Regions from separate parts of the Homo sapiens genome. Here regions 1, 2, 4, 5 and 6 are each reported to be linked to region 3. The links are microRNA targets in miRTarBase. Many come from high-throughput screens and were not tested one by one. Region 3 holds a microRNA gene; each other region holds the end of a gene's coding sequence.
The links. Region 3 holds the annotated microRNA hsa-miR-3668 (AAUGUAGAGAUUGAUCAAAAU, at 1,740-1,760, shown strand). A microRNA usually pairs through its seed, bases 2 to 8, with sites in the 3' UTR of a target mRNA and lowers its output. Matches are read on the target gene's strand: a 7mer-m8 pairs with bases 2 to 8, a 7mer-A1 pairs with bases 2 to 7 and ends in A, and an 8mer does both.

Region 1: the mRNA of RTN4RL1 is a reported target of hsa-miR-3668. Seed matches in the 3' UTR shown: 8mer at 3,440-3,447.
Region 2: miRTarBase lists ZNF529 as a target of hsa-miR-3668. Seed matches in the 3' UTR shown: 7mer-A1 at 3,983-3,989.
Region 4: the mRNA of PRIMA1 is a reported target of hsa-miR-3668. Seed matches in the 3' UTR shown: 7mer-A1 at 1,732-1,738 and 8mer at 3,216-3,223.
Region 5: miRTarBase lists CHD9 as a target of hsa-miR-3668. Seed matches in the 3' UTR shown: 7mer-m8 at 4,335-4,341.
Region 6: the mRNA of PLEKHA8 is a reported target of hsa-miR-3668. The part of its 3' UTR that is shown has no 7-base or 8-base seed match.

What each region holds. Positions count from the first base shown.
Region 1 is chr17:1,932,313-1,937,392 of GRCh38, forward strand. RTN4RL1 (reticulon 4 receptor like 1) reads right to left here. Exons shown (of 2, transcript NM_178568.4): 2 at 2,365-5,080. The coding sequence ends at 4,184. Among named protein-coding and RNA genes, the nearest start is that of RTN4RL1-AS1, 83 kb to the right of the region's middle. RefSeq lists an enhancer at 1-470.
Region 2 is chr19:36,542,106-36,547,196 of GRCh38, forward strand. It overlaps ZNF529 (zinc finger protein 529), which reads right to left. Exons shown (of 5, transcript NM_020951.5): 5 at 1,508-5,091. The coding sequence ends at 4,761. Among named protein-coding and RNA genes, the nearest start is that of ZNF260, 16 kb to the left of the region's middle.
Region 3 is chr6:140,203,521-140,208,611 of GRCh38, forward strand. It overlaps MIR3668 (microRNA 3668), which reads left to right and starts at 1,732; the gene lies at 1,732-1,806.
Region 4 is chr14:93,716,871-93,721,870 of GRCh38, reverse strand. It overlaps PRIMA1 (proline rich membrane anchor 1), which reads left to right. Exons shown (of 5, transcript NM_178013.4): 5 at 325-3,573. The coding sequence ends at 427. Among named protein-coding and RNA genes, the nearest start is that of PRIMA1, 69 kb to the left of the region's middle.
Region 5 is chr16:53,324,590-53,329,680 of GRCh38, reverse strand. CHD9 (chromodomain helicase DNA binding protein 9) reads right to left here. Exons shown (of 39, transcript NM_001308319.2): 39 at 2,184-5,091. The coding sequence ends at 4,786. Among named protein-coding and RNA genes, the nearest start is that of RBL2, 110 kb to the left of the region's middle.
Region 6 is chr7:30,078,452-30,083,542 of GRCh38, reverse strand. It overlaps PLEKHA8 (pleckstrin homology domain containing A8), which reads right to left. Exons shown (of 14, transcript NM_001197026.2): 14 at 1-4,953. The coding sequence ends at 4,756. Among named protein-coding and RNA genes, the nearest start is that of PLEKHA8, 53 kb to the right of the region's middle. RefSeq lists an enhancer at 2,197-2,723.

The DNA.
Region 1 (5,080 bases), not on the chromosome of region 3:
CCCCGGCAGGAGAGGAGGGGTGCGGTTGGTGGGAGGGGCTCTGGGGCTGGCTGATGGTCACAGCCCGCACAGGCAGAAGCGCCGGGGTGATCTGAGCTGCTCCGAAGTCAGGAGGGGCTGAGGGCGGCCGCGGCTGGGAAGCAGGGAGCGCAGGCCGTGGAATGCTTCCCAAGCTTGGAAGCAGCAGGTGTCTGGGAATGGGCCTGTGGCCCAGGCAGACTTCCAGCGAGCGCTCCAGCTTGCTGGCACCAGGGGAGGATCTGGCTGAGCCCAGGAGGCAAGTTTCCACCATGAAACCCACTGTTGAAGAACCGCGGCAAGGTTGCCACGGTCAGAAACCACGTGCCTATGGACAGGCTGGGGGGGGTGGGCGGGAGGACGACCAGGTCGGGGGGACCGCACAGCCCCTCCACTTCCACGGCAGAGTGGAGTCCCTGAGCAGAGTCCCCTGGGCCGCTCCCATACAGGGCGCGTCTCCCATGCCCTCAGCTGGGAGTGGTTTGTGGATACCCCAGACACAGTGCTGTTACCACCTCTAGCCCTACTCCCCACACTCTTCTCTGGGTGGCTCCTCATCCTCCAAGACTCATTGGAGTGTCACCTCTGCCTGGAAGCCCTCTCTGACTGCCCCCACCCAGCTGAGCTCCTCATTTTGGGGGCCGAGGGGTGCTACCACAAGCGCCAACTCCATACCAGTTGCGAATACTTGTTTCTACATCTAGGCTCTGAGCTCCTTTTGCCCCGAGCCACGTCTTCTCACGTTTATGTCCCCAGAGCCTGGCCAGTGGCTGGACACGGAGGTCCCTGATCAGCCCTTGTTGAATGAACTATGCAGAGCCAGCCAAGCTCTGGGGTCAGGGGAGGAGCTTGTGTGAAAGGCCTTAGAGACCACCAGTGGCCATCCAGCCCCTCCGACAGGGGTGGCTCTGTCCCCATCAGTCCACAGTGGAGGCCTTCAGTGGCCACCCAGCCCCTCCAACAGGGGTGGCTCTGTCCCCGTCAGTCCACAGTGGAGACCACCAGTGGCCACCCAGCCCCTCCAACAGGGGTGGCTCTGTCCCCATCAGTCCACAGTGGAGGCCTGTGTGGCAGGAGGGCTGGGAGGGAGAAGAGATGACTCCCTCTGGGGGTCCAGGGAAAGTGGGAAGATGGCAGCGGAGGGGTGGCCCCCGCCTCTGGGAAGACCACAGGAATCTGCATCTCCATGCCCTGAACCAGACGCAAGGGGCTGGAGCTGGCGAATAGAGAAGCTTTTGCCTCGCCCCTGACGCGTCCAGTTGCTTTGATGTTTGGGGCGATGGTGTCATCATAACTGCGTAGCATGAGCTGCTGAGTGACAACTGATGTCGTCTGCAACAGAGCTGCCTTGATTCCCCCTACCTCTTAGAGGAGAAAGCTGCTAAAAATACCTGGCGTCCTGGGCCCCCACTGCCTTGCCTCTAATAACAGTCGGCAACCAGAGACTGTGCTGTGCTTGACAGAAGCGGATCATTTATAAAACATTAGCATTTCTCGTACTGACATTTCACTTCCATATTACAGGACTTCCTAAGTCTTTTTTTAAAAAAAAAATTAATAAAGTGCTTAGACTCTTGATTTTCCCACTGAGGGCCTTGCTGTCTGAAGCTGGAAATGAAATCAACAACACAACAACATCCTTGGGTTCTAAGGGACAGCCAGGCCCTAGCACCTCGGCCTGGGTCAGAGCCTGCAGGCCACAGGGGAGCAGGTGCAGGCTGAGGATTCTTTGGTCTGCAGTCACTGGGCTCCCTTTAGTGAATGCCCCAAGCCTCATACTGAGGAGGATTTGTCCAGCCAGGCCTGAAAACACAGCCTTCCTCCCTCTATCCGGGGAACCCTCTCCTTTCTCTGAAGCCAGAGAGACGTGTGCAGTCTCCAAGCCCACCCACAGCTGTCCGGGTGGGTCCCTAGCCTCCTGGAAAACTCCTTGGGCCCCAGGTACTGACTGTTTCCTTGCAGCCGCCCGTCCCCACCAGCCGCCTGCCGGGCGCCCTGAGGATCAGTCACTTAGCCATTGCTCCGGAGACTCCCGGGAATAGGCCAGGAAGGACCCAGGACCAGCCTCCTCCGGGGAGAGCCACGGAGATGGTGCCGACCCGGGGCAGTCAGAATGTGGAAAGTGAATCATGATCTGTGCGGGCAAGGGAAGTGCCACGAAACGGAGCACCAGGGTGTGCGTGCTCTCATGTGTCCCGTGAATCAGTGCGCCCCTGCCCCCTGCGGCTCCTCCCGCCAACAAATGTGCTGTGTTCCCAGAGCTGTGCCCGGCCAGGCTCGCCCACCCACAGAAGCCCAGGATCTGCCACCTGTCGGGAATGCGGGGTTAGGAAATGAAAAACAGGGTTCTTGTCCAAGATCATTTATTGTTATTATTATTTTTCTCTCTTAATTGGATTCAGCGTTTCTGGCTCCTCACACACATCCTCTCTGGTGGGGGATTCAGGTTTGTGCAAAGCACAAAGGAGCTTGTACCCACCTGGGCCCCCGGCCAGCAGCACGGCCGGCTTTGATCGGAGCCCCTCTTCCCTGTCCGGGCTCGCCTGCCCCAGTCCCTGCTTCTGACCCCTGAGTCCGGCCTCCCGAGCCTCTGCCTGCACCCTGAGCATCCCCAGGACGGCTGGGAGGGCCAGGTCTTCCGTGATGCAGAAGTGCCTGAGATGGTTCATGAAATGCCCTCATTGTTCCCCTTCTGCTAAGGCCCCCGACGCCTCCCTCCTGCTGTCCCACACAGGGCCCTTGCTGGGTCACACACCAAACAGCCTCAAGGAAAAATTCAGCAGCTGAGCCGTGCGGGAGGCCTGGGCTCAAGCCCGGAGTCTCCTTGGCCCGTCCAGGCCGTCACTGACCAAACGCTAGGCTGACGACACGGTCCGACCCTTTGGACTAACACTGTGGATGCTGCCTGGCCTGCTGGTTTCCAGATCCCAAAGCCCCTTCCTTCCCCTTCTCCATCTCGCTCACCCTCGGGGCCTGGCTCCCTCATATACAATAAGCTGCTTCTCACTTCTCACCCTGAAGCCAACAGCTACGACAGCAGGGGTGACAGGGCGCTCCAGGGTGGCAGACAGGCTTGTGTTGCATATAAAAACAAGGTGATGCTCTAAATATCTAAGAATATTGGTCCCCCAAAGTGACTCTTGCTGCCTCCCCCTTCCTCACCGTCCCGCCGACACCTTGCCCCAGGCCCTTGGCAAGGCCAGGTCCCTTGGAGACTATCGTTGCCAGTTTGGGATTCTAGACAAAAATTCTATCACTTTGTTTTTGCTAGAAATCACCAATACAATCCTTAGTTCAGCAAATACAGTTTTCTGTATAGTTTATAAACATGAAAAGACGTACAGTTAGGTAACGGAGTGGGAGGGGGACTGTGCATTTGTGTATATATATATATATATATATATATATATATATATATATATATGTAGAGTGTGAATATATATAAGTGGACGTAGTTAGTTATAAAACTGCACCTTCTGTGAGAACCTCATTGCCCGGGATGAAGTTCTAGATTTCAGCCTCTGATGATCTTTCCTTTGGTAATTGGTTCTTGGACCCCAGCAGTTGGACCTGGGTCTGCCAGGGTTGCCTGAGACATCAGGAATGAGAGGCGCTACCCCCGAGGGAGGGGCTGAAGGTGGAGTAGGATAGAATTCAGGGCAGGGTGACTGGCCTCAGGCAAGAGCCAAGATGCCACCTGCTCGTGTGTGCCCAGACTGCTGGCCACCCAGCCTCGTGGGTGAGCCTCATTTGTTCTTCTCTGCGTCCTGCTTTCTCCAGGAACCACGGGGCCCTCCAGACCTCTCGGAACGATCGGGATTCCACAGAGCCCCGGTGCCGCCGTCGGGGGCAATTGTCCCACTGTTGCCAGTGGAGGATGCACTTGGAGTGCCTTTTCCCACCTTGCCAGAGTGGACACTGTCCGTGGGCGCTCTGCGGGGCTGGCTGGGACAGCCGGCTGAGAAGCGCCACCCCCTCCCGCCTAGGGCTGTACACTTTGGGTTTATAATCCACATGGCAGGGTCCAGACGTCCAGACAGCAGCCGAAGGCTCTACCAGCCTTTTCCTGAAACCCAGCAGATCTTCCACTTGTTAAAAAAAGAAGAAAATAAATTCTGTTCCTTGGTGGACATGTGGCAGTGCTGGGTGCTGACGCCCTGGGTCCTCAGCGGAGAGTGACCGCCAGCCCCAGTGTCCAGGCCAGGAGGGAGGCCCCCAGGGAACTGGCCGAGGAGGCCTGCTGCACCCCGCTGGGGGCACGGATGGGGGTCCTGCGGGCACACTTGCCCTTCCTCTTGGGCCGGGCCGTAGGCATGATGTCAAAACTGAACTTGTGCTGGTAGTCTGGGGCATAGTCTGGCAGCTCGGGGGCCTGTTTCCCGGCGCCCGCCTTAGAGATCTGATTGCGGTTCCTGGGGTTGGTGCAGTTCTTCCCCGGCTTCCTGTGGCCGGGCCGGGGGCCGTGCGGGTGGCCCTTGCTCCTGGTGGGGCCGTGGGGTGAGTGGTGTTCCTTGCGGGCGGCCCTGTCGGTGGTGGTGAGCGTGTGTGACTTGATCTGGTGCGGGGACGCTGGTCCCGTGCAGTTCCGGAAGTCCTCGGCCCTCAGCAGCTTCAGGTCCTGGCCGTGCCGCAGCCCAGGGGACACACAGGGGACAGCGGAGCTGGAGCCCCGGAACCTCTGCAGCCATTCCCACAGGGAGCGCGCGCGACAACCACAGTCCCAGGGGTTGCCGTTGAGGCGGAGGAACTCCAGGGCCCCCAGCGGGGCCAGGCACTCACCCTGCAGCTCCGAGAGGCTGTTGTTGAAGAGGAAGAGGGTGGTCAGCCTGCGGAGGTCGTGGAACGCCTTGTGGTGGACCCACTGCAGCTGGTTCTCGTGCAGCAAAAGACGGTCCAGGTTCACCAGGCCCCGGAAGGTGCCCGGGCCCAGACTCCACAGCTTGTTGCCGTGGAGAAACAGGTGGCTGAGGTTGACCAGGTCCACGAAGATGTCGTCCTGGAGGTACTCGATGTGGTTGTCCTGCAGGTAGAGGTACTGCAGGCTGTGCAGGCCGCCAAAGAC
Region 2 (5,091 bases), not on the chromosome of region 3:
CTGTAAGCCCCTTGGGAGGCTGAGGCGGGCGGATCACTTGAGGTCAGGAGTTTGAGACCAGCCTGACCAACACAGAAAAACCCTGTCTCTACTAAAAATACAACATTAGCCGGCCGTGGTGGCACATGCCTGTAATCCCAGCTACTCAGGAGGCTGAGGCAGGAGAATTGCTTGAACCTGGGAGGTGGAGGTTGCTGCGAGCTGAGGTTGTGCCATTGCACTCCAGCCTGGGCAACAAGAGCGAACACCATCTCAAAAAAAAAAAAGAAAAAAGAAAAAATTCCATTAAACACAAAAGGTGGCAATATTGGGAGAATTAAGAAACAAAAAGAGACATACACAAAACAAATTAAAATATGGCAGAAGTCAGTCCTTTACAAGCAATTAATTTAAATGTATATTGATTAAACTCTCCAATTAAAAGGCAGAGATTGCCAGATGGATTAAAAAAAATGATCCAACTATATGCTGTCCATAAGAGACTCAGTATAAATCCCAAACTGTAAATAGTTTGAAAGTGAGAGGAGTGGACAAAGATTCCATGCAAATAGTTAAGCAAAAGAGAGGTAGGGTGGCTATGCTAGTATCAAACAAAATAGACTTTAAGTCAAAAATTTTTACAAGGGACAAAAAAGACACATTATATATTGATAAAACGGTCAATGCATCAAAAGATATAATAGTTATAAACACAAACACACCAAACAGCCCCAAAAGAAGTGAAGCAAACACTACAAAAAGTTGCAGGCAAAAAAAAAAAGTTCTACAACAGTTGGAGTCTTCAAAACTTCACATTCAATAATGGATGGAACATCTACACAGAAGATCAAGAAGGAAATAGAAAACTGGAAGATTATCAACTAACAACACCTAACATGTACACAACACTCTACCCCAAAACAGCAAAATACACATTTCCTCATTTTTCTCAGTATGGTTAAGAATTTCCCAAATCTTCACATTTTAGTTTCTTATTGCTTAAGAATTCCTCCTTCAATTCATCTCTCTCCTTTCCTGTTTTATATGCGCAATAAAGGGAACCCAAGCCACAAGTTCAATAATTAGAAATCTCCGCTACTATTCAGTTTTCATTGGTTGGAAGCGCTACCTTCCACAAAACACTAGAACATGATTCAGCCAAGTTCCTTGCTACAATAACCTGTTTCTCATTTCTGAGACTAAAACATTATGGCCTTAAATGTCCATATTTCTACCAACATTTTGTTCATGATTGTTTCTTTAACATGAATACCGTTCATGACAGGATTCTTTAAAATGGAAGCTTTCTCTCCAGTGGTTCTATTTTTTTTTTTTGTCCTCCCCAGAATCATTTTTACATCCATATTTCTAGCATCTACCCTCAGCATTCTTCTAGCCTATTTGCCCACCACCCAGTTCCAAAGCTTGGACTTGCACATTTTTAGTTTTTTGTTATAGCAGCACCCCACTTCTCAGTACCAACAACTGTCTTAGTTTGCTTAGGGTGTTGTAAGAAAATGCCATAGACTGTGAGGCTTAAATACAGATATTTATTTTCTCACTGTTCTAATTAAAATAGGGATTAGCAGGTTTAATTCCTGGTAAGGGCTCTCTTGGCTTCTCCTTGTGTCCTCATGTGGACTTTCCTTTGTGTGTGAGCATAGGAAGAGACGTCTCTCCTTCCTCTTCTCATAAGATCACCATTTGTATCAAATTAGAATCACATTCTTATGTCCTCATTGCCCTATGTCCAAATACAATCACATTGCAGGTTAAGGGGTGAATTCTGGCAAGTTGGAGTTGGGGTGGGGGGTGGCGCAGGGGTTATATAACTCCAGAAATCTCAGTCACAGACTCTTTACCTGTCCCTAACATACATATATTAGTTGCCATTAAATTGAATTCCTTCAAGGACATATAAAATTTAATGGTGCAGGACAGCAGAAAACAGGATGAGACTGCAATATCCTATCCTATTGAATATGAGAATAAAGCTCCTATGCAGGCTTAGAGAAAAGTCAGAAAGAATAAAGGGGCAAATGAAAATGGAAAGAATGGTGAAGTTTTATGTTTTTGAGTAAAAATAGTAAAAACCAAACAGTAATACCACCAATAATAATTATATTATGGTTTCGAGTAAGTGTGAAATGCCATAAGTTCATTACGAAGTTAAGTGAAAAATGTTAATATGATAAAAATATAGCTGTAACTACAAACAAGGAAAACATAATAAGGACACATTTTATTCATTAATTTATTATTTGTTAATGACTTCAAAAAGTAAAAGCCAAGACACAAGGATATTTTGTTTCTCTCACTAATTTTAATGTCTGTATACAAGGTTTAGATATTTAGTTTTAATTTGTTTAAGCTGGAAGGAAAAAAACACACACAAAGAAATATAGGACAAGTTCTCCTGGAGAACTATACCCAAAAGAGGAACATTAGCACTGATGGTAACTCAGGATAAAAAGGGAGAATGAGATCCAAGAGTAAATTAGCTGTGTTGTTACATAAATAGAATTTAGTTAGAAATAGAGCTACTACTCTATTTCAAAGATATGAAATAGCAAATATCCTGACAAAAAGGTTAACATACTCTTGTTCTTACTGTGTAGGACATGAAACAACAACCAATTACATATCTTTTAAAACTACTTGAATAAGCAATACTTACATAAAACATAGCTCAATATATCAGATGAGAAAATGGCTTAATACTGGTAATCATTCACACCGTTATAGAGTACATAAATTCTGGGAAAGACATCAGTTTCAAAAATTAAAATGTAATGAATGACAGTGACATAAATTTATCTGAAAATAATAGTAAAATTTTCTTATAAAAATCAAATAACCGGACAGGCGTGGTGGCTCATGCCTGTAATCCCAGCACTTTGGGAGGCCGAGGCAGGGGGATCACAAGGTCAGGAAATCGAGACTGTCTTGGCCAACGTGGTGAAACTCCATATCTACTAAAATACAATTAGCTGGGCATGGTGGCGCATGCCTGTAATCCCAGCTACTTGGCAGGCTGAGGCAGGGGAATCGCTTGAACCTGGGAGGTGGAGGTTGCAGTGATCTGAGATGACACCACTGCACTCCGGCCTGGTGACAGAGCAAGGCTCTATCTCAAAATAAATAAATAAATCCAATAACCAGGCTGGGTGCGGTGGCTCATGCCTGTAATCCCAGCACTTTGGGAGGCTGAGGCGGGTGGATCACCTGAGGTCGGGAGTTTGAGACCAGACTGACCAACACGGAGATATCCCGTCTCTACTAAAAATATAAAATTAGCCGGTCATGGTGGCGCATGCCTGTAATCCCAGCTAATCAGGAGGCTGAGCAGGAGAATAGCCTGAACCTGGGAGGCAGAGGTTGAGGTGAGCCAAGACTGCGCCACTGCACTCCAGCCTAGGCAACAAGAGCAAAACTCTGTCTAAAAAAAAAGAAAAAAAATCCAATAACCAGTGGCTCGTGATCTCATTGACTGCATAACCAAGTCAGCAGTCCTAAGAGAGAGATGATTTTGGAGTTAAATGAGATTAGTTAAACCAAAGAAGGTCTGCTGATTGTTGAAATGCCCAAACCTAGTAAGTCAACTCTGAGAGGGAATAAAAAGAAAAATAATGATAATAGATTAAAAAAACAATTGAAGCCATGTTAATATATAGTTGTAAATTCTCTTAATGTAAGTTCAGTGGTCATTTTTTCTCCCCTTTTAAAGGTGTTTGACAAATTTTAGAGTGATACTTTAAGAGAATGATAAATTTTAAGAGACTTACTGGGTGAGTAGTTTTATCAAATATTTAAAAGAGTTCTCTTCATTTGGATCCTGGTTGGTATAGCCTGCAGGTAAAAAGACTGCTTAAAGGAACTGGTTATATTCCAATATAACACACATACACACTATATATATATAGTGCCCAGTATATAGTGTATATACTATATATACATATATTGTGTGTGTGTGTGTGTATATATATATATATATATAGTGTGTTATGTAGTGCATGTGTGGGCATATATAGTATACATCACACACATATACATCACACACTATATACACACATATAGTATATGTGATATGTATAGTATACATCACACATACACTATATACACTATATGTGTATATACACTATATGTATATAGTGTGTGTGTGTGTGTGTGTGTGTTATGGTGGAATATAACCAGTTCCTATGTATGTGTTTTTTTGGGGGGAATATGTTGTATCAAAATAAAGTAGAAATTTAAAGAGAAGTCAACAATTGGATGAAAATGGAAAGGAGATCACACTTCTATCATTTAAAACAAAACAAAACAACATTACACAAAATGATGAGCTGTAAGACTGTAAAAATACATTGTATCTGACTAGGAGTGCTAACTCTGTGGAGGAAAATAAGTAAGTATAGATATCACAAGCAAAGAATTACAATGCAGAAAAGATATTGAAGTAATATTACAATTAAAAAACTGAATAGTCAAAAGAGCAATAATACAAACATCAAAAGCTATTGTAAACAAAACATGCCAGGATGAGAAACTCATGAAAAAAACTTTTTAACATAAAAAGGAGAAATATTTGGCAACATCTAACAAAGCTATAAGTATATATCAGCTATGACTAAGCAATTCTACGTCTACATACAGAATGACCATGAAGTCTAAAAACAGACTTTAAGAGAGGGAGATACTGAATTGCCTTGATTACCTATTAAATCCATCCACAGTATTTTCCTGTGAAAATCAGAAATAAAAAACCACTTTATACATTTATTTCAGTCAAATGATTTCTCACCAGTGTAAATTTTCGGTTGGCAAGTAAGATGCCCAACAACACTAAAGGAATTCCCACACTCCTTACATTCATAGGGTTTATCATCAGTATGAATGCGCTGATGTTTGGTAAAGGATGAACTATGTCTAAAGGCCTTCCCACATGCCTTGCATTCATAGGGTTTTTCTCCAGTATGAATTCTCTGATGTTCTGTAAGGGCTGAACTATGTCTAAAGGCCTTCCCACATACCTTACATTCATAAGGTTTCTCACCACTATGAATTCTTTGATGTTGAATAAGGGCTGACGTAAGTCTAAAGAACTTTCCACAC
Region 3 (5,091 bases):
CTATAGTTTAGTTTTAAATAAAATGGATGTGATTAAATGTAAAAAAATTTGATTACTGACAGGAGACCAGAGTTAATTGAACTTAGCAGAGAGCAGAGTTTAGTTCTCCAGGCTACAATATTGACAGAAATTCTCAATGAATCATTAAAAAAACTCAAGTGGGGCTGGAGTATGTTTGAGCTGTTGCCAGGCTAACCTTGGAGACCCTTTGTTGTAAAGAATAGAATAGTCGTATCACATGGTAGTGCTGATAAGGTAAAGGAGAGGAGATATTCTTTATTACTGCTGTCAACCTCGTAGAGACAATTGGGAAACATGTTTTTGGTTACTGTGGGTATCTCTTGGGATAGTAGTGACAACTCTCACCATCCAGTTTATTAAATCCCAATAGGAATGTTTCCATCATCTCTTTGCAAAAAAATTGTTAGATGTAACATTTTCCAGAAGTACTGGAAAATTTATTTATGAGCCAAAAATAAGAGTGAAATTGACTAGAAGCAGAAAGTCCCTGTCCAAGCTAAGGAAATGCAAAAAGTAAACAAATGGTATAAATAGCAAAAGAATGTAAGTCTGTGGTTAGCAGTGACATCTGAATGTCCAGTTTAAAGTTTTGTGCTTTATTCCCAACCCTAGTTACAAAGTGAATGAAACTGACACAATATAAATATCTGAATCTTCTGATTCTTCTTTAATTAAATGAACATTCCCTTAATATGTGATTCTGAAATGTTTTGAGATTTCAATGTCAGAAATGATTGTCTGTGTCAAAAGCAACTCATTCTAATTGCTCCTTTTAAGTTCATGTTGCACATAATTGTATGTTCTCTTAACCTAGGCACCCCAAAGAGGCTTTTATTGTGAGTCATAGATTCTCCAATCCTGAATTATGTTGGTTGGTGCTATTAATTACCATTTGAAAAATCATTGATGGGGATGCTTAAGGAAACTTGTTTGATTTAGTTTTGTTTTTGGTCTTAAATCTTTAGGATATTCATTTTCAAATGCAAATGTTCATAACCTAACAGACATGAAATATTTTCAGGTTTCTTTCTACAACTTCTTTGAGTAGAGATTCTCCCAGGTACTGGTTACCTTGAATATTACTGAATAAAGATTTTTTTTAAAAAAGAAATGTTACTATCAATACCATGTAATTTACCTGTTAATCATGTAATATTTTGAAAGTACAGCAACTAACTATGATACTATAATACAGGCATTTTTGTTCTAACACTTTGGAAAAGAGATTAGCATTACGGATGATTTAGATTCATGTTTTGATAGTAAAGGTATCTGTTGAAATATATAGCAGTTCATTTATTTTACATCCTGTATTTAAAATTCTATGATTATATTGGCTCTAATTTTAAAATGTGTTACAAAACTTATAGTACATATCTTTAATTGCAAGCCCTTATTATTTTACAATACCTAATGAAAATGATCAGTTATGCTCATTTCTACACAAGGTGATATAATAAGACACAAAAATGAGTGAAACAGGTGTTAAATCTCTTTCCCTCACACTGGGGTCATCATCTGCTTTTTTGAAGTATATTTTGTACAAAGAAAAAGATATTGGAAGAGAGTCATTGGTAGTCTAAAATTTCTTGCCTGGCTGTATTTTGGAAAAATATTACACTAGTCCTTTCTCCTTTCCTTTCTGTATCTCTTCTATTTATAACTATTTTACAACTATTTAAAAATGTCTTAGAGTTTAACTGGCCTAAAATATATGAAATGTAGAGATTGATCAAAATAGTTTCTATCAAAATAGTTTTGATCAATCTCTGCAATTTTATATATGAGGAAACTGAAGTCTGAAAGTATTATGCCCTTTGTGTCTCTATTTTGAAAGGCAGTGACAAAATTAAGACATATGACCAGCATCTGCTGAACCATGGATCTTTTTTATAACTAACTATATTATTTCTTTTTTTTCCCCAGAAAAGATGATGGCAGGAAAAGCTTAGAATAATATATATGTTTTTTTCTATTCTATCTAATCAATCAATCAGTTTTGTTTCACTGTAACCCTAACCTTTGTCAATGTCATCAATAGCATCGCTTGTTCAGAAAACAAATGAACATTTTTGGAGTCAAAAAGTTAAACTCAAACTCCATCTTACTGATATGGAAGTGCTGGGAAGGGAGGAGCGTGGCTCCTTTAAATGATATGGAAGGGGTGAAGGAAAGTGCTAGGTAGAGGAAGGGCGTGGTCCCTGGCTGGGGCTCCACCCCCACGGACCTAGGTAAGGACAGGCACTCCTGCCTTCATGCCCAAATGTTGTATTTCCAAAGACCACCCTGGCCCACCATGCCCTCATCCTGTGTGTATAAAAACCAAGACCCTAGCAAGGCAGAGAAGAAGCAGCTGGACATTGAGAGGAGCACATCAGCAGAGGAACACACAGGCACAGGATGTTCAGAGGGATGCACCAGCACCCGCATGCTGGCAGGCTACTGACCAGCAGAACAACGTGGAGTTTGGCTGGGGTGGTTGGAGGAGAGCCCGGGAGAGCCCGCGCCTCTGAGTGGCACAACTCCAGGGGAAAACCATCTCCTTTCTGGCTCCCCCATGTGCAGAGAGCTACTTCCACTCAGTAAAACCTTGCACTCATTCTTCAAGCCCACATGTGAACCAATTCTTCCAGTACACCAAGGCAAGAAACCCTGGGATACAGAAAGCCCTCTGTCCTTGTGACAAGGTAGAGGGTCTAATTGAGCTGACATAAGTCGCCTATAGACCACAAACTAAAAGAGCACTCTGTAACACACCCCACTGGGGCTTCAGGAGCTGTAAACTTTCACCCCTAGACTCAGCCCTGGGGGCGGAGCCCCACAGCCTGCCCATCTGTATGCTCCCCTAGAGGTTTGAGGAGCGGGGCACTGAAGTAGCAAGCCACACCCGCATCGCATGCCTGGCGAGGGGACAAGGGAACTTTTCCTGTTTCGTTACTAGATGTATGACCTTTGAAATTTACTTACATGTTCACATTTTAAAATGGGAACTATAATGAATACCCACAGGTGAAATGAGTGATTTTAACCAGTCTCATTTTGCTTAGTCACATGATCCAGATATATCTGTTAGTCATTTAGTGATTTGTTGATTGATTATTCCTGTTTCTAAAAAAAAATCCCATTTGTATTTGATGAAAACTGAAAAGGCATCTTCATCTTCAGTTTTAGAAACTGCAATGGACTGAATGTTTTTCTCCAAAATTTATATGTTGAAATTCGAATCCCCAAGGTGATAATGATATTAGGATGGAGAGTCTTTGGGAGCCCTCATAAATGAGATTAGTGCCCTTATAAAAGAGACCACAGAGAGATCCCCGACCCCTTACCCCATATGAGGATACATGAAAAGATGGCCATGTTTGAATCAGGAAGCAGCCCCTCACCAGATACAAAATGTGCTGGTGTCTTGATCTTGGACTTCTCAGCCTCCAGAACTGTGAGAAATAAATGTTTGTTGTTTATAAGCCATCCAGTTTATGGTATTTTGTTACAGCAGCCTGAATAGTTTAAGACAGCAATTGAATAATATTTAAAAATGCATGAAGTACTGCTGCTTAAATATTAAAGTCAATGAGAACTCCCTGAAATTTATAGATGGAAGAGGATGCTGAATTTGTTTGTTACCAATCTCACATTTTACAGTACCAAAGGCAAAAAACTTAACCTAAGATGGCAGTGGTTACACAGAAAGTTAATGTTATGTCTGGGGCTAAAACACAGATCTCCTCATTTTCAGTTCTCAGCATTTTCCTCAATAGCATGCCACCTTTCTTAATAAAAGGGTAATTGTGTTGGGACCAGGAACACTGGTATATTTTAACAGATATGTCTAGACCATGAGAATTGCCAGATGCATTTTGCAAAGATTTTATTAATTGTACACACACATTAGGATATTAATTTCTTCAGATGAATATTTAATTATTAATGTTACACAAGTTGGAATCAGTTGTTAAGTATGTGCTTTAAGCTATACCAAAACTAAGTGTTACACTGGAAATTGTCACAGGCCATTTTCTTGTGTTAAAGTAAAGCTACAATTTTTTTTCCTATAACTCATGAAACAATAACTTATGTTTCCCTTATTCTTTATTTATTGTTTTTATTTTTAATGTTTATAATTATTATATACGTTGGTTCATAGGAAATGCAAAGGCATATTTTCAGCCCACTTAGGTATTATTTTATGGCATTCATTGATGTATTAACTTTCCTCTGACTTTATGTCATTCATTCTCTCTCTATTTTTATCACTTTTTAGCCTATCAGAATGCATGCAATTGTATAAAGAGCCTTAAATCATTCTGAGAGTAGATGTTTGAATAAATAGTATTTGTTATTCAAAATGACCGTCACTGGAGAAGTGATTTGATATACAATTTTTTGCTTTACATACAGCTACCTAGTAGCTAAAATGCAGCTTCTTTAAAGGACAACTGAAAAATCTTTAGAAAACATAGGTAAGGGAATGTGTCCCTGAATGTGTGAAAATGACAATGACACTAATAGTATTAAACTAAAAGAAGAGAAATATTAAGGAAGTTAAAGGAATGAAAAAGGAAGGAAGGAGAAGAACTTAGTGTGTGCTAGGCACTGTGCAAACAACAAACAACAAGAAAACATCTAACTCAATTTCACTCAGGAGGAAAATGAATCCTAGGAGTTAAGTAACTTGCCTGATGTTAGACAATGTGTAAGTAACAAAAATGAAACCTTTTTAACTCTACTACAATTTTTTAAAATTAAAAACGTGAATTAAAATTATGTTTTCTACTTTTACTTTCGTTTGATTCATTAATCTCGCAAGTAACTTTGGATCCCACTGGAGTTTCTCATATAATCCATGCTACTACATCCTAAGAGAATTTAACTCTGTCCTGAAATGACATCTGAAGCCAATATTTATAACCCAGTCCTGTGTCCTTGCCAAGTTTCCTGTGCTAATGATCTTAAGCTTCAATAACAGCTGTCATGTAGATGAATTGCAAGGTACTTTGGGAGCTATATGAACGTATCGCATGGCTTTTATCACACATACATTTCCTGCATCACCTCTGGATTAAAATG
Region 4 (5,000 bases), not on the chromosome of region 3:
GACTGAACATACTTTCTTGTTTGTCCAAAACAGCCTGGACTCATACCTGTTGTCCCTGCTTCATCATTAATAGCTCCCCTCTTTCCCTCTCAACTGTGCCCCGGTTTTCATGACACCCGAGTTAAGACCACGTCCAGCTTCTGATTAACCCCACAAGGACTAGCAGCCCAAGGATGCTAACCGAGGACAGAGCCATTGGCTTCCTTCTGACACTCTCACGGAGCAGGGATGCTAGCTGGAGGTTACACCCCACCATCAGTGATAACTAATGGTGTCCCTGCCTCCCCCTCCTTTGCCTTTCCTGTCCCCTCCCCCCACTTCCAGGAAACCACTGAGAAAAGACGAAAATGGCACCAGCGTTGCTGAGTATCCCATGAGTGCTTCGCAGAGCAACAAAGGAGTAGACGTGAACAACGCAGTGGTGTGAGTCTGCAGGCCCTGGACCCGCTGGCCAGAGGGACACCTTGGTGGCACTGGTGGACATGGGAAAGCAGGTGGACATGAGCTAACCCTGAGCTTGTCCAGGACTTCATTGCCTCACAGGCCCTGAGCCTCCCGAAGGAGAAACCATTGTCTTCCCAGGCTTGCCCCTGGTCAGCCTGCGGGCCCAGGCAGCTCGGACACCAGGCTGAGCCCGGCGCAGCACCTGGGCAGTGTCCCCACCCCAGGCCCTCCACATCCTCCTCCCTGTCTGGTGTCTGGTCTGTCGACTGCCCCCAGCTGCTGTCTAAAGCATGCGCACTGGCGAAGCCAGAGGGATCTGTCTTTCTACTGTGGCAGGGAGGCTTCCCCCTTTAGCCAAAAGAAAGATGGTCCGGAGCCCACTCCCTGCCGGAAAACCTCTCCTCCTCCCAGGAAGCCTGCCTGCTCCACTGTTCACATTCTCAACAGAAGCCATCGGCACAGCCAGCAGACAGACGTCCCCTTTCAAAGGTGCTTCCCACACATCTGTTCATCGCCCCATCTGCAGTTGTTGTCAATCTTCAGGGCCTGCCTTCTCCCTCCTATCCCCACTGACACCCTACACCCTAGGCTCCTGACTGCCTGCCATGGAGGGCTGTGAGTCCAGCCTGCAGAATCCCCTCCTGAGCAGACACAGGAGTGCGTTTACACTCGGGGGCAGTGTCTGGCCTTCCGGGGGCAAAACGACTCACTGAACCCGCAGCCCAGGGCCACTGGGCAAGGGCAGAGGCCACTGCACCTGTCCTCAGACTCATCCCCACACTTGACCCCATAGGAACTGATGCATCTGTGTGAGCCAGGCCCTGCCTTAGTCAGCAGAGGCCACTACTTGTGCCAAATCCACTGTGGGCCTGCTGTACCAGGCTGATGCTGGCCAGGCGCTGGATGTCCCCCACAGTCCCCTGAGGCCTGACTGTTGTACTCAGGCCCTCTCCCAGAGTCCTCCATCATCTCCCCATTTTACCCTACCCCGAGCCCCAGTCGCCAAGAAGGAGGTGTTGTTCTTCCAGGGTCTTCCTTTCAATGTCTGTTTCCACAGTCTCATGCTATAGAAGCGCTGAGCCCTCCAGCGTGGTTGGAGGATCAAGGGATGAAATGGGACAGGAGGAGAGGGGTCCTCCAGGCTGGTGACCCCTGCCCTGTTGGCCTGTCTCCCAAGTGGCAGCCTTCCCTGTGGGCCACATCAGGAAACCCACGGAGACAGGGTGATTTTGCATCTCCTGGAAAATGAGTGGGACACTCCTGGCCCCCTGGCTCTCCCCACCACCCCTACATATGTGCTCAGAAGGAGCCCAATGCATTGAATGGTTCCACTGTCGAGCCCTCTAAGACCTGGTTTGCCTCCTAAACCTCCAGTGTGCTCCTCTGATAGGTGTTTAAGCTACAGGTGAGACTTTGAAGTCCAGAGAAGACAGACACACCTGAAAACCGGTCCCCATTTGGGCCGAACCTTAAAAAGCCCATTGTCCCAGAGTCCTAGTGCCCACGGAGCTGTCTGTGTGTCATTGTCCTGCCCAGGTCATCAGGTGTGGGCTGAGGACAGGCCCAGGGCATACCCTCCCATAAAGGGGTTTTCTTCTTTCCTCATTTCCTTCTATTTGAGGACTTGTTTGGGGTTTAGATTTGAATTTTGCTTCCCCTGGACACCTGGGCATCAGCATAGTGCCACCCCCTGCTCCTGACCTGGCCAGTACTTCACAGTGCTCTTGAGGTGCGGAGCCAGCTGACAAATAGGCCAGAGGGTGTGGGCCAGCAGCAGGTTAAAGGGGGAAACCCAGCAGACCCCACCCCAGGGCACTCTCCCCTACTGCCTTCAGCCTTCTGGTGCCTGTTGAACCCCCAAGCTGTGCCCTAAGCAGACCCCTGGGCAGGACCCTAGCCCTAAGCACACACCACCCTGTGCTGCAACCATGAGAAAGTGCCCATGCCTTGGGCTGTCCAGAAGCTCAGGAGTGATCAGAGGGCACCTTCTCTAAGAGGGGAGGTTCCTGGCTAAGGGACCATGGAGTGGTGGGCAGCCTGAAGGGGCTGGGCACAGCCCAGCTTTGCGCACACTCGCCTGGTCCCATCATTCCCTACCTTGGCTTAAACCTAGGAGGCCTGGATTTTGCAGTTAGCCTAATCTTCCAGCCCCAGGCGAGGCTCCCTGGTGAGGAATCAGCTGAGCCATCACCACGTTTTGGGGCCTGTATCCTCTTCCCTGAGCCGCTGACGCATCCAGGGCTCTAGTCTGCACATAAATTCCCTCTCAGCTGGGCTTGTAAAATCCCTTCTCACCCCAGTTAGCAAAAATCAAGGGAAGAGCCTAGTTTTTTTAAAAGATTCACTTAATATCCACCCCCCACCTCAAGCCCAAGACCGCCCATTCAAAAAACAAGTATACGGCACAGCAAGGGAGACCCACTAGATTTTGAGCTTACAGAGACATAAGGGTACTTAAAACCCTGCCGGCCTAGTATTTGAGCTTAGAACTTTTATTTAAAATGAGCCGGCAGTCTCTAGACACACACCGATCCTCAGGCTAGTCCGAGCCCTGAGGTCAAGAATGAAATGCACTTCCCTTCTCATTTTCTCAAATAGATCTTTTCCAGCCGTCTCACAGTTGACCCCAACTTTGGAACTCAGATCATAGGATCTCCCAGAGGTTTCAGGTGTTCCTAAGAAGCTTCTAAAGGAAGTTTTGGAAGAAAGACTAATAGGTGTAAACATATAAACATATATATTATATATAGCTATATATATTTAAAGAGATCTCTACATATATATATATATATAAATACAACTACTGTACTCTCTGCATCTGTACAAAGTATGAGTTAAACTGCCCAGGTAGTGTGAGATACGTAATGCATGAATGTGAATATCCTGAAATCTGCCTTCTTAGCAACGTGCCGCGTGTACTGGAGAGAGGACAGTTGCTCCTGGGAGTTCTCTCAATGGGCAAATGTACAAGTTGATGCCGTCTTATCCACCAACAAGCCATTAAGGTTGGTTTCCTGCTGAGACTTTTGTACCGGAAGCGAGACCGGCAGCACTGGGGGTGTCCATATGCCACTTATGAGGAAGAAAGCACCATGACTTTTTTATTTTCAATAAAAATATAGAGATGTCTGTCAGTTGTCATTTGTGGGGTGGGGGAAAGGAGAAGGCCGGCCTGAGGGATGGGGGGATCCTTCACTAGGGTCCTGCTATACCCCAGGGCTGGGCTGGGGACCTTCCATGGGATATCTCTGTATGTTTTATCCCAACGCCCCAGGGTCGGTATTTATGGGGCTTTCAAAGGCCAATTCTGTCCCTCAGCCTGCCACCCACCGCCTTGACCCTTGACTTAATTGAGAATAGGGCGACCAACCTTCCCAGTTTGCCTGGGACTGAGAGATTCTCCTGAACCTGGGACTTTCAGGGCTAAAACCGGGGATATCTGGGGAAAATGGGACAAGAAGGTCGCCCTAAGTTGACAAGTGCTCACAGGAATCACAGGGAGCAGGAATCAGCCGGCCACACCAACAGGGTGACGGTGGCCAGGGTCAGCCTCCTGGATGTCCACCCCATGTGTAGACCTCAGCACCCACAGGCTGCTCTGCAAAGCCTCCTTACCTGGCCAGTTGCATGGAGAATGGAGGCTTGCCCTGCACCCCCACGCAGAGGGGCCCAAAGGGCACAGGGCCCCCCAGGCTCAAGCTCCCGCCACCACCCCGCTGCTTTGTTTTCCCCGCTCCAGCCTCACCCTCAGGCAAGCCTCACAGGAAGCAGCCGTGGGGAAGAGCTTCCGGTGTGATGGGCCAGGAGGGATGTAGGAAGAGAGAAAAAGTTGCACCTGCAGCATCTTCATCCTCCTGTTTGGAGTGAGGAGACAGGTCAGAAATGGAGCACAATGGCCAAGGTCAAGCACATACCAGGAAACAGGGATGGGGCTGGGGGTTGAACCCAGCCTGGTGCCTTCAAGGCCCGGCCACTGGGCACAAGCGAGGGGCCACAACTCAGACTCTCTCCACCCCTGCCTGGCTTCCCTGGGGCTTCAGAGTTAGCTCAGTGAGGGCCAGCTAAGAGCCCTGTGTGCCCAGAGCCAGTGGGCAGGTATATCCCCCTAACTGGGCTCACAGCCCAGGGGACAGGAGCTCAGTGCAGGAACTCAGGGAAGGGCTTGTGTCCCAGGCATCAGGGACATGGAGGGAACATGGAAGTTATTAAAGGCACTCCTGTTACAAGCGCCCCTCGCACCTGGGATTCTGTGAGCTGCTGTTGGCCTGCATACGCAGTAGAAGACGCAGTAGACACGCAGTAGAAGATGGCCATTGTTACAATGACTGTCACTGTTGTCTTTAATGAAAGAGCCTGTGTGATAGTGAGGGCTCCTCTGTCCACTGGCCCCCTCCTGGGGCCTGCCTGAAAGCTGGTGAGGGTTCAGTGGGACATCTCAGGCCTCACACCCACTCCTGTGCACCCTCAGCCCAGGCGTCCTCAGCAGCAAGCTCGGAGGCCAGCAGGGAGTGGCAGGCCTATGTGCAGTGCTCTGCCTGCTTGTGCAGGGGCCTGGG
Region 5 (5,091 bases), not on the chromosome of region 3:
ACTAGGAAAAAAGAACAATAAGTTAATTTTAAAGATCAAAATATAATTTATGCCTATTAATTTGGCAAAGATTATTTAAAAAGACAATACACAGCATTGGCAAAGATTTGGGAATAAATGGGCATGCGCAAAACGTATGCTGCTAATGTTAGTATAAATAGCTACTAGGAGCTTCGTTATAAACGTGGAAACATAAACTGAAGTCCTTAAAAACAGAGGAAGTATTTTCAGTTCTAGGAATTAAGCAAATTATTTAGGGATGGATGCAAAAATGTCTACATAAACCCAAATATCCATTTTAAATTAATGATTAAATAAATTACATCTGTATGAATCAATACTATGTATTAAAAATTACATTGCAGGATTCTTATTTGACATAGGTCAGTATATTAAGGGCAGTGCACCAAGTTTTTTTTCTTCTTTTTCAAAGCCTACAGCAGGTAGAAATTATGTACCATAAAACACTGAGTTAATATGAAAAGCTATCAGTTTCCTAGGGCTGCCATGACAAATTACCACAAACTAGGTGACTTAAAACAATGGAAATTTATTCTCTTACAGTTCAGGTTAGAAACCCCAAATCAAGGTGTTGGCAAGGTTGGTTCTTTCCGGAAGCTATGAAGGAGAATGCTTGTTACTTCTCTCCTAGCTTCTGGTGGTTGCTGGCAATCCTTGGTGTTCCCTAGTTGTAGGAACATCCCTCCGGTCTCCTTTATCACAAAACAGCCTTCCCAGTGTTTCTGAGTATCTTCTGCTCTTCTTCTAAGGACACTAGTCATTGGATTTAGGGCCCACCCTAATCCGGCATGACTACAACTAATTACATTTGCCAAGACCCGATTTCCAAAATAAGGCCACATTCTGAGGTTTTAGGTTGACATCAGTTTCTGAATGACACTACTCAACCCACTACATGTAAATAACATAGATATACAAAAGATTGAATATATTACTGACAGTGTTTATCTCTGGGTAGTTTTAGTTTATGAATGATTTAAATATTTTTTTGCTTTTCTGAATTTTAAAATAAATAGCTTATATAGAGATTAAGTTCTAAGTTTATTGTATAAAGTGAATATTAGGTGTAGTCAAAAATCATTTCTGGCTGGGTGTGGTGGCTCACACCTGTAATCCCAGCACTTTGGGAGGCCGAGATGGGTAGACTGCTTGAGCCCAGGAGTTTGAGATCAGCCTGGGCAACACGGCAAAACCCCATCTCTACAAAAAATACAAAAATTAGCTCGTTGTGGTGATGCATGCTGTAGTCTCAGCTACTCAGGAGGCTGAGGAGGGAGGATTGCTTGAGCCCAACAGGTCAAGGATGCAGTGGGCTGTGATCGCACCACTGCACTCCACCCTAGGGGAGGCAGAGCAAGACCTTGTCTTTATAAAAAAAAAAAAAATCACTCTTTTCTCTCACAGAGCTCACAAATTACAGAATACATCATTTTATACCTCATATCTCTTCTCAAAAATGTCCAACATAGGCAATTCTTCCTCCAACACTGGAACAGACTACTGTTCCTCTGGGTGAGTACTAGATGAAGCAGTTGGTTTGTGTTTATATGTTATGTTGTACAAAAATGAAAAAAAGGTTTTCTAAACATGAAAGTGTAGTTGAATGTGTTCAAGTTAAATGAGTATGAGACTCCACTGTTTTAGTTGTGTAATTAGAGGAAAAACTATTTTCTTCAATGTTTACGAAGAACACTACCCATGGCAATGAGTTAGGAAACACTCTTAAGACTAAGGGAAAAAAATAATTATTGATTTCCAAAATGGACTTCTTAAAGAGGTGAGGAATATCTCTGAGTATTTCTGAGTTTTTTAAAAGTCCAAAAACTTAAGAAAATAATACTTAATGTTCAGCATGAAGTTGAGATTGGGCTGCAAAATTGGGGTTTAACAATTTGAATGCCCAAGAAGCAGCTTTTGCTTTTTTTGCAGTCACCAATATCCACAATGAACAATATTAATAAAATTAAATCAAAATGAAAAATTGACAGCATTTAAGATACTGTGGATAAAATTATAGCCAATTTTTGTTTTAAAAATTCTTCCACGGTATATTTTCCTTTTAAAGATTTACAACTATGGTGTCTCTCATAACTGGAATAAGATAAATTCTATATAAAATTCAATTTTAAAAAGTATTCTCATGTACAGAGGCTGACATCATGGGTAGTCAAAGAATATGTTTAATAAAAAATAATTAAACTTCCATTTGCTCTATAGAACATCATAGAAAGTAATTTAATAAATTACAAATGACTTTTTAAGACGTTTGCTCAACTACAGAAAGCAAATTCAGACTACACAAAACACAACTGGTAAATATTGCAAATGTCCAAAAGAAAGATTGGACTAAGACTTGAATCATAAAACCTGAAACAAGGGCTATAAATACAAGGCAATAACAGCTATAATTCTTTTAGTAACTACCAACACATACTTGGATATTCTTTCAACTGCAACTTTAGTATTATGTAATTCTACTGATTTTTTTTTCCTTATAACCCTTAACTTTACACAACCATATTTGCATGTGTTTTCTTAGCTGATAGCTGGACAACTTTTCCCCAATGAATATTAAATAGAAGTGTCTTGAAACCTAAGAGAATGTTTAAAGTTATGTTAGACTTAATGCTTTGAAAACTGTAATTGCCTTATTATATAGAAAGAGAATCACTAGGATGTTAACCAAATTTATTTGACCATAATTAGGAAAATACTTTCTCTCATAAATTTGATATAAATTAGATTTTAGTGACAAGATCTACAGATTTTTTTTCCTTTTTTTTTTTTTTAATTGGCGAAAGGAAGGAATAAAGATCATGTGGGTAGAATTAGAGGGAGGAAGGGAAATGTGGTTGGTGTTGAAATACTCCACCGGTAAACTAAGATAACTGTGTTTGAAACTTTGGCTATCTCATAGGTGTATTCTAGTTAAACAAAAGTGCAATACTGCAAAGGGAAGATACTAAATATGTAATATATCATTTTCATGATGAAGAATTACTACCCACTTCTCCTGGATGGGCATTATAGAGACTATTGCTAAGACATTGCATAAAGGACTATCAATTCAAAGTACTATTTTGGGAAAATACAAAATCAATACAATCCCAATGGAACTTATATAATTTTGTAAATACATATAACACTGTCTCTCTAATAAGGGGTTATTTTACATACAGAAACATAATTTACTGGTAAAGGTCTTGGAAAACCTGATACAATTGACTAACTCATGACAAAGCAACAGTTTTATCAAAACATACTGAAAGTATTTTTTCTGTAGGAGAGAACTGGGACACTTTTTCCCCCTAAATTTATGCCCTTGCAGACTTTACTACTAACTTATTTGAGTACCAGAAAAATGCTAACATATATCTCTCCTTAGAATGTCAATATTTTTATGTCCAATTCAGTACTAATTGTTTTAAATATATATAAAGGTGAACCTGGACCTCTACCTTGTCAGAATAATAGCAGCTTTAGCAGGAGAAATTGTATCACAAATCAAATATCAGACAAATTTTACATGGTAAAGGAGTCTATGAAATTGAACAGAAGCCTCAGGCTTCACTTTTGTGGTTTACAGGTATAACTTGTACATCTTTTTGAGATTATTCAAAGTGCATTTTCAAAACGGGCAACTCAGTATATTTAATATAAACTGATAACCCAACACTGATTCTGGGCAACATTTAGTCTGCTTACACCTAGAAACTCAAAATGAATTTAGACTATCTGCATATTACTTTACCACTATTATCTGTTAATTCTGGAATATTTCCATGACATAAAACACAAATAGAAATCTACACAAAGAAAGCAAACAAACAATTTCTTTTACATGAAGTATGCTGTGTTGAAAGTTCTTTTCAGTGGCATTTCATGAGTTTGCCTTTTCTGAACCCTGGAAACAGACATTACTCATCTGAGACATGATTATTTCTAATAGGAGGCCAAACTTTGAAAAGTTAAAACTAAGTATGTCTATAGGGTGCCAAAGTCACATGACACATGATTATTTTATGACTTAATTTTACTGATATCTGAATTAAGCTCAGCAAAAAGCAAGTCATATTTCTTGCCAGATTGACATGATATATAGGATGTGTTTAAAAAACCCCTGAAAACAAGTATAGAATTAGAAACGAATGTAAACTTCCTAAACTAACTCAGCTGAGGTAACAGGTAGCCAGTTAAATTGGCTGATTGGGAAACTTATTTCTTCTTTAAAACATACTTGTACCTGAATTGGAAACATCAGCAGTGCATCACAACACTAGAGCATTTTCATGTAATTAAAGCAATGGATGGTGATGTAGATTCTACAGCTTTCATGACATTCATTAGCTGCCCAAATTATTGCTGAGTTTTGATCTGTAAATTATAGGTGTCAAGGAGGCTGTAAAACTATATTCAAATTAAATCAGTAATATGCATAAAGTATTCTGTGTTCACTGCAAATATATTAAATATACAACTCTTATTGAGCATAATTTTCATAAAATTAACCCCCAACAAAATTATAATGCCTTTTGTTGTAATTTTACACCTTTATGTATTTGATAGTACATACGAGTTCAGAAACTTATGAATCTTAAGAAATATTACATGCAAAAAGTCTCTGAAAGCAGTTTGCACTTCTAAACAAATAACTGAAATGTTCGGTCAGTAAGTTATTGATGCACTCAACACTGGGGTATTTACAATTAATTATTAAAGAAAAAATCCAAAATCAGTTCATATTTTAAGTGCAGAGTCTGGGAATCAGTCTTCATTACTAGAATCTGAATCCTCAGATGACGACGATGTACTATCAGATCCAGATGAAGCATCAGCTTTCTCTGAACCCTCATCTGTGCTGTTTTCATTGAGAGGACTTGGTTCAGTTCCTCCTTTGTCTTCCTGATCTTTAATTCTGGAATCTTCTTCTTTTACTTCTACAGACTTAGACGAGCCTAAGTCACTGTTTTTGTTTTGTACATCAAAAGTATTGGACTGGGACAAAGTTGGAATATGAAGATTAAGGCCTGGAGTGAGAAGCATCCCTGGATAAAGTATATTAGATAGTAA
Region 6 (5,091 bases), not on the chromosome of region 3:
TGGAGTGCCTGAATGCAGCAGTGCAATGAGAAATCATGCAAATAGTCACTGTACACAGGACTATTGACTGTCTGAGACAGGATGGGAATTGGGAACATTTACAGGGAAGGTCTAGTAAACAGTATATTTATGGAATTGTTGAAAGAACTCCTAATGACGTTGTGATACAGATAAACAGTCTTAAAATACCATTAGACAGCTAGTGAATTATTTTTTATGAAATGACTATGAAACCCCTGAGTAAGCAACTGCGGATTACAAAGGGACATACAGAAGTAGAATGTACTTCTAACGAAAGCATTCTATATACAATCCATAAGAATACAAATTTACCATACATAATGAAGTTTGTGTAGAGCCCTTACAAGATCACAAAGAGTATCTGAAGTCAGGCCCTCTAAGACCAAACACATCAGCTCAGCTAACAGAACAATGGCTAAAAATATATTTTACTTATAAACTCTACATCTAAAAATTTTAAAATTTAAAAAAGGTTGATAGATTATCTTAAAAAAAGAAATGAAACATGAGGGAGAGCTGAATACTTGTAAAACCTGTGACTAAAATCAGAAGCAACTGGTTTTAATCAGTGATTCAGAGACGCACCATTATATAACCAAGTTCTTGTAGGACATGGTAGTTTGCTAGGAAAAAAACTTAATTTTCCTCCAGGAAGCTCCCCAAATGCCTCGCATCATCGTCTATTGCTCATGACCCTCTGACTCTATTGCCTGATCTGATGTTTCTCCATATGTATGATTTTCACAATCAGATTAAGTTTCCTTAAAAAAAAATCTCTTACTTTGGCTCCTCTTTCCCTCACTTCAAATTTAGTGGAGAAAAATGTACTTTACTTATTTGGTCCCTATCACATATTTTTAATTAAAAACACTTTTCTGAAAATATAAAGTTAAAAGCATCAACTTTTTGTTAATATATTTGGAAAGTAATAACCAAAAGGAGAAGAGTGCAAATTTTTTTCCGCTGCACTCCTCTAATAATCATCTTTCCTAGGTGCCCCATGTCATGTCATTCACCCGCTTTCCAGCTACAAATGGGAATATGGGCTCCTTCTTAAGAAGCTCTTGCAGTCTGGGGGGTGGGGGAACAGAATCCCCACTGATCAGGCACGCAGCCCTGGGCTAAGGTGGTGCCAGATACTCTACATATGTGCTAGAAGCTGCTCCTGGGAAATGGGGCAGAACAAACATAAGTGGGGGTAGATTTGGTGTGCTGATGGCGGTACTGCTGGCAATTTTCAGTAGCAAAGAAGAGAGAAAAGCAACAACGCTGGACTATGGAGTTCAGAAATCCCTCATCATGGAATATGACATTGGGGGAAGTTTAATAATCAGAATAACATGCAAAAAATGATAAGAAGGTGCCTCAAGCCACTACTTATACATCCTAATGAGAACTACCCTTCGAAGTCAATGTCTTGGGCCCACAGGCTCAACATTCTGTGAGAGCTCCTCTTCTGGAACTCCCTTCAGAGCTACATCAAGAGCCAATGAGAAGACCATCTTCTCCTCATAGTTACAATTTGGTTTCACTCCCAAAAGGGATCTCTCCAATTTAACATTTTTCACCAGCATTAGCTATAAGGAATCTGACTTGCTTTCAAAAGTCAAGAGACTTGCCATCATTGAAAATATTTTGTTTAATTCAACAAATACACCCTGATCCCTACAAAGTGTAAACACTGGCTTTTACCATAGAGAAAAGTACAGGCACGATGAAATTGTGTGGAAATGTCTCATAAGGGGTTAGCCTAATGTTACTTATTTGTGTCTACAATACCTAGTAGACCAATTTCCTTTTTCTTCCAGTTCTCTCTAAAGGTTACGCTAGAAAAATAATCCTAAAAATGCTTTGAGCGATGAGAACAAAGTGATTACTCTGCCAACAAAATACTAGAGTTTTCTCACCTCCTCTCACAGTAATGGTGAAAGTAAATTTAGTTGTCCCAGAAGTCTTGGAGGGCTATGGAGAGAAAGCTTTAAATATCTTTTCTCATTGCCCTCTTCTTGGAAAGTGATTACACATCAGCGCAAATTATGACTTTAACTAAAACAGAGAGCAAATACTTTAGATGTAGGAGGAAGCTCTGACTATGCCAAGGTTCAGGTTAAGCTGAATTTACTGTTTAGTATTAGGTTCAATTTCTAATTTCTAATATTTTTATTTAAGGATCCTCAGTTCCTTAAGCAAACTTTTACACATCTTAAACAAACTTTTATACATCTTAGGCAAACGTAATATGCTCCAGTGGGGAAAATACCTATTAAAAAATATTACCCTCTTTCTACAGATGTGGAAAAAGGGTAATTGGAAAATGTAACTTATTCAAGCTATTCTGTCTGATCTGGGTTCTCAATGATCTCAGATAATATTAAGCCCCTCATTCCCAGCAAATTAAGTTGTGTACATCTAGTCACTACCTATACAAATGCAAAATGGCCATGCTGAGCAGCTTTCCTTTTGTGTGTATTCAGAGTTGCGGTGGCAAACCTGAGGTATTTTCAGAGTGCTACCTCTCCAAGAGACCACAGAGTTCACCTGAGGTGACAGGGAGCACCAGCAGCTGTTTAGAATGATCACACTGCACAATTCTAACAACCACCTGGTATCATCCCCGCTAAATGGTACAATGCCTAAAACATCTTCATTCAAAGTACAAGCAAAAACTGGCTTTTTCTTTTTCCGTTTTAGGGGGCTATGTCAAGGGCAGGGACTATCCCCGAGTCCTGCCATCATATTCATACTAATCAGAGAAGGAGATCTATACTCACTGCTCATGAGAGTGGGAGGGAAATAACACACACACACCTTGGCAAAATACAAAATAATCAACATCATTTTAATACCCCCCTTCTTTCTCCCTAGCTTTAAAACATGTGATGTTGATTTTTCAAGTTTAAGTATTTTCCAGAAGTCTTTATGTGGGCAAAATACCTAATTAATCTGAGCTAAATAAATGTTCATTTGTTTAAAGACACACAAAGGCAAAACCAATACCCCTCCCTACATAAACTTCTCTGACTAAAGAGAGAATTCTCTCCATCCTAGAGATCTGCAGCAGGAACAGCATCATCTAGAGATGATGCTCTCAATTCAACCAAGCCCCTCAAAGGACCTTCTACCCTGGATAACTACCTCATGCTGGAACTTCCCTTCCTGTTACTAGAAGGAAGTAGCCTCTAATGGGGAAGGTACCCATGGCTTCTCTCCGATGCACACTCGAGGCAGCATGGTCTACTGAGACTAGGGCCAGGGTTGGAGCATCACACTGTGCAGAAGAATGCCCACTCAATATTGTTTTATGAAACAATGTTTCTTAAGTTTTAAGAAGTTTAAGAAACTGTTTTCTTAAGTCTCATCTTTCAACTATGACACTGTCCCAAAGCTTTTGAGATTGATAAACAGCTGCATTTTGCCTGCTCTGCACTTTTGGTGATTAAACCGAGATTGATTGGTAAGCAGATTCAGAGTCATGGTCCCCGAATGCAATGCAAAGGCCTGCTGGCTGGGTGTCAATGCTGGCTCAATTAAGAATGCTGCTGAATGAACCTGCTCCACTTCTCACTCTCCATTTAGCTATTTTATTTAAATAGCAGCCTTATCCTCTTTGAAAAAAAAAAAAAGGACATATCATTTAGTTCTTGAAGAAAACTGGTAATTTTGTAAACTAGAATTTAATCTAGTTGCTCTTCAATACTGTGTGCAGAAGAATCACGTGTAAAGTTTACTGAAATGCAGATTCCTATGTCCCACCACCTAGACTCTGGTTCTTTAGGCCAAAATAAGGCCTGGGAATCTGCTGTTTGAACAAGCACTCCATATGACTTTGATGCAGAGGCAGTCCAGGTCACACTTGGAAATTATCTGGCTCCTCTGCTTAAAAACTATGTGACTGTGAACAGATCCCTCAACTTCTAAACCTTGCTTTTGAAGTGGAGTAATAATCCCTCTGGGTATCATTACTTGTGATGTCCAATTGAGATAATGCATGGGGAACATGCTGGTAAATGGTAGGCAGTTGGGAGGTGTCATCTCAAATGACCTGTCCCACCTCTCTCATATTCTCCCCTCCAACTTGGGGCTAGGGCACACCATTAATCTTCTCAGAGCAACGGTTTCATGCCTGTCAGCAAGGATGGGACTCCTGTCCACGTCTTCTTCGCCTCCCACAATTGCATGGTCATGTGAATGCCCTGAACATCTTTACTACACAGGCCCTTATCACTGACAGAGTTGCAGTGAAGAGGGTCCACTGAAGAACATCTAGGAACAGCAAACTCTACACAGCTTCAACAAAGCAGCTTATACTACCTCCAAATGTCTAGTCTAAGTTGGCTGAAACACTGGCTATGAATTATGGTACTTAATATGGAATTTGCTGATTTTCAGCTTGGGTTTGGGTGGCCCATTAGACTAAAATATAAAAACAATACAATACACAATAACAGCAAATTTGTTTGTTAAATCTGCTCTTATAACTTGCTGTTCAAGTCTACAGCAGCTTATCATTTGGTTTCCAGTAGGCCTGCTGAACTGAAATATATAGCACCTTGATCTTTAAACAAAACACATATGCATTTTAAAAATTATAAAAGCACTGGGTTTTGCCACCTCCTGTCCATCCCCCCAGGTGAAGGGGTTGGAGAGGGTTGAGGCTGTTGCTGGAAATTAAGTAGGGCAACAAAACACTTTAGCACTTATTCCCTGAAGTTAGGAGGTGCTGCCCAGCAGCCATCATACCACCTCATCAGATTCCAGCCCGTGGACCTCATATAAAGTGTCCAGTATGGCCAGCTGCTTCTCCATGGCAGGGAGGTAAAGGCTGAGGTCCCTCTGCATCCCAATACTGAAAGCTTCTTTCTGGTGGTCACCTTCCTTTACGGTTAACGCGGCCACAAAATCTTCATAGGATGGAGCTGCCCTTAAAGCTAACTGCAAAAGAATAACCCATGAGAATCTGCATCAAGTCTGTCTCTCACACTCTTATTTTTATGCATGTGCACATGCACACACACATACTTTCACACATACAAACAGCTGAGAAGAGCAAGAGTAAAGAAATATGACTAC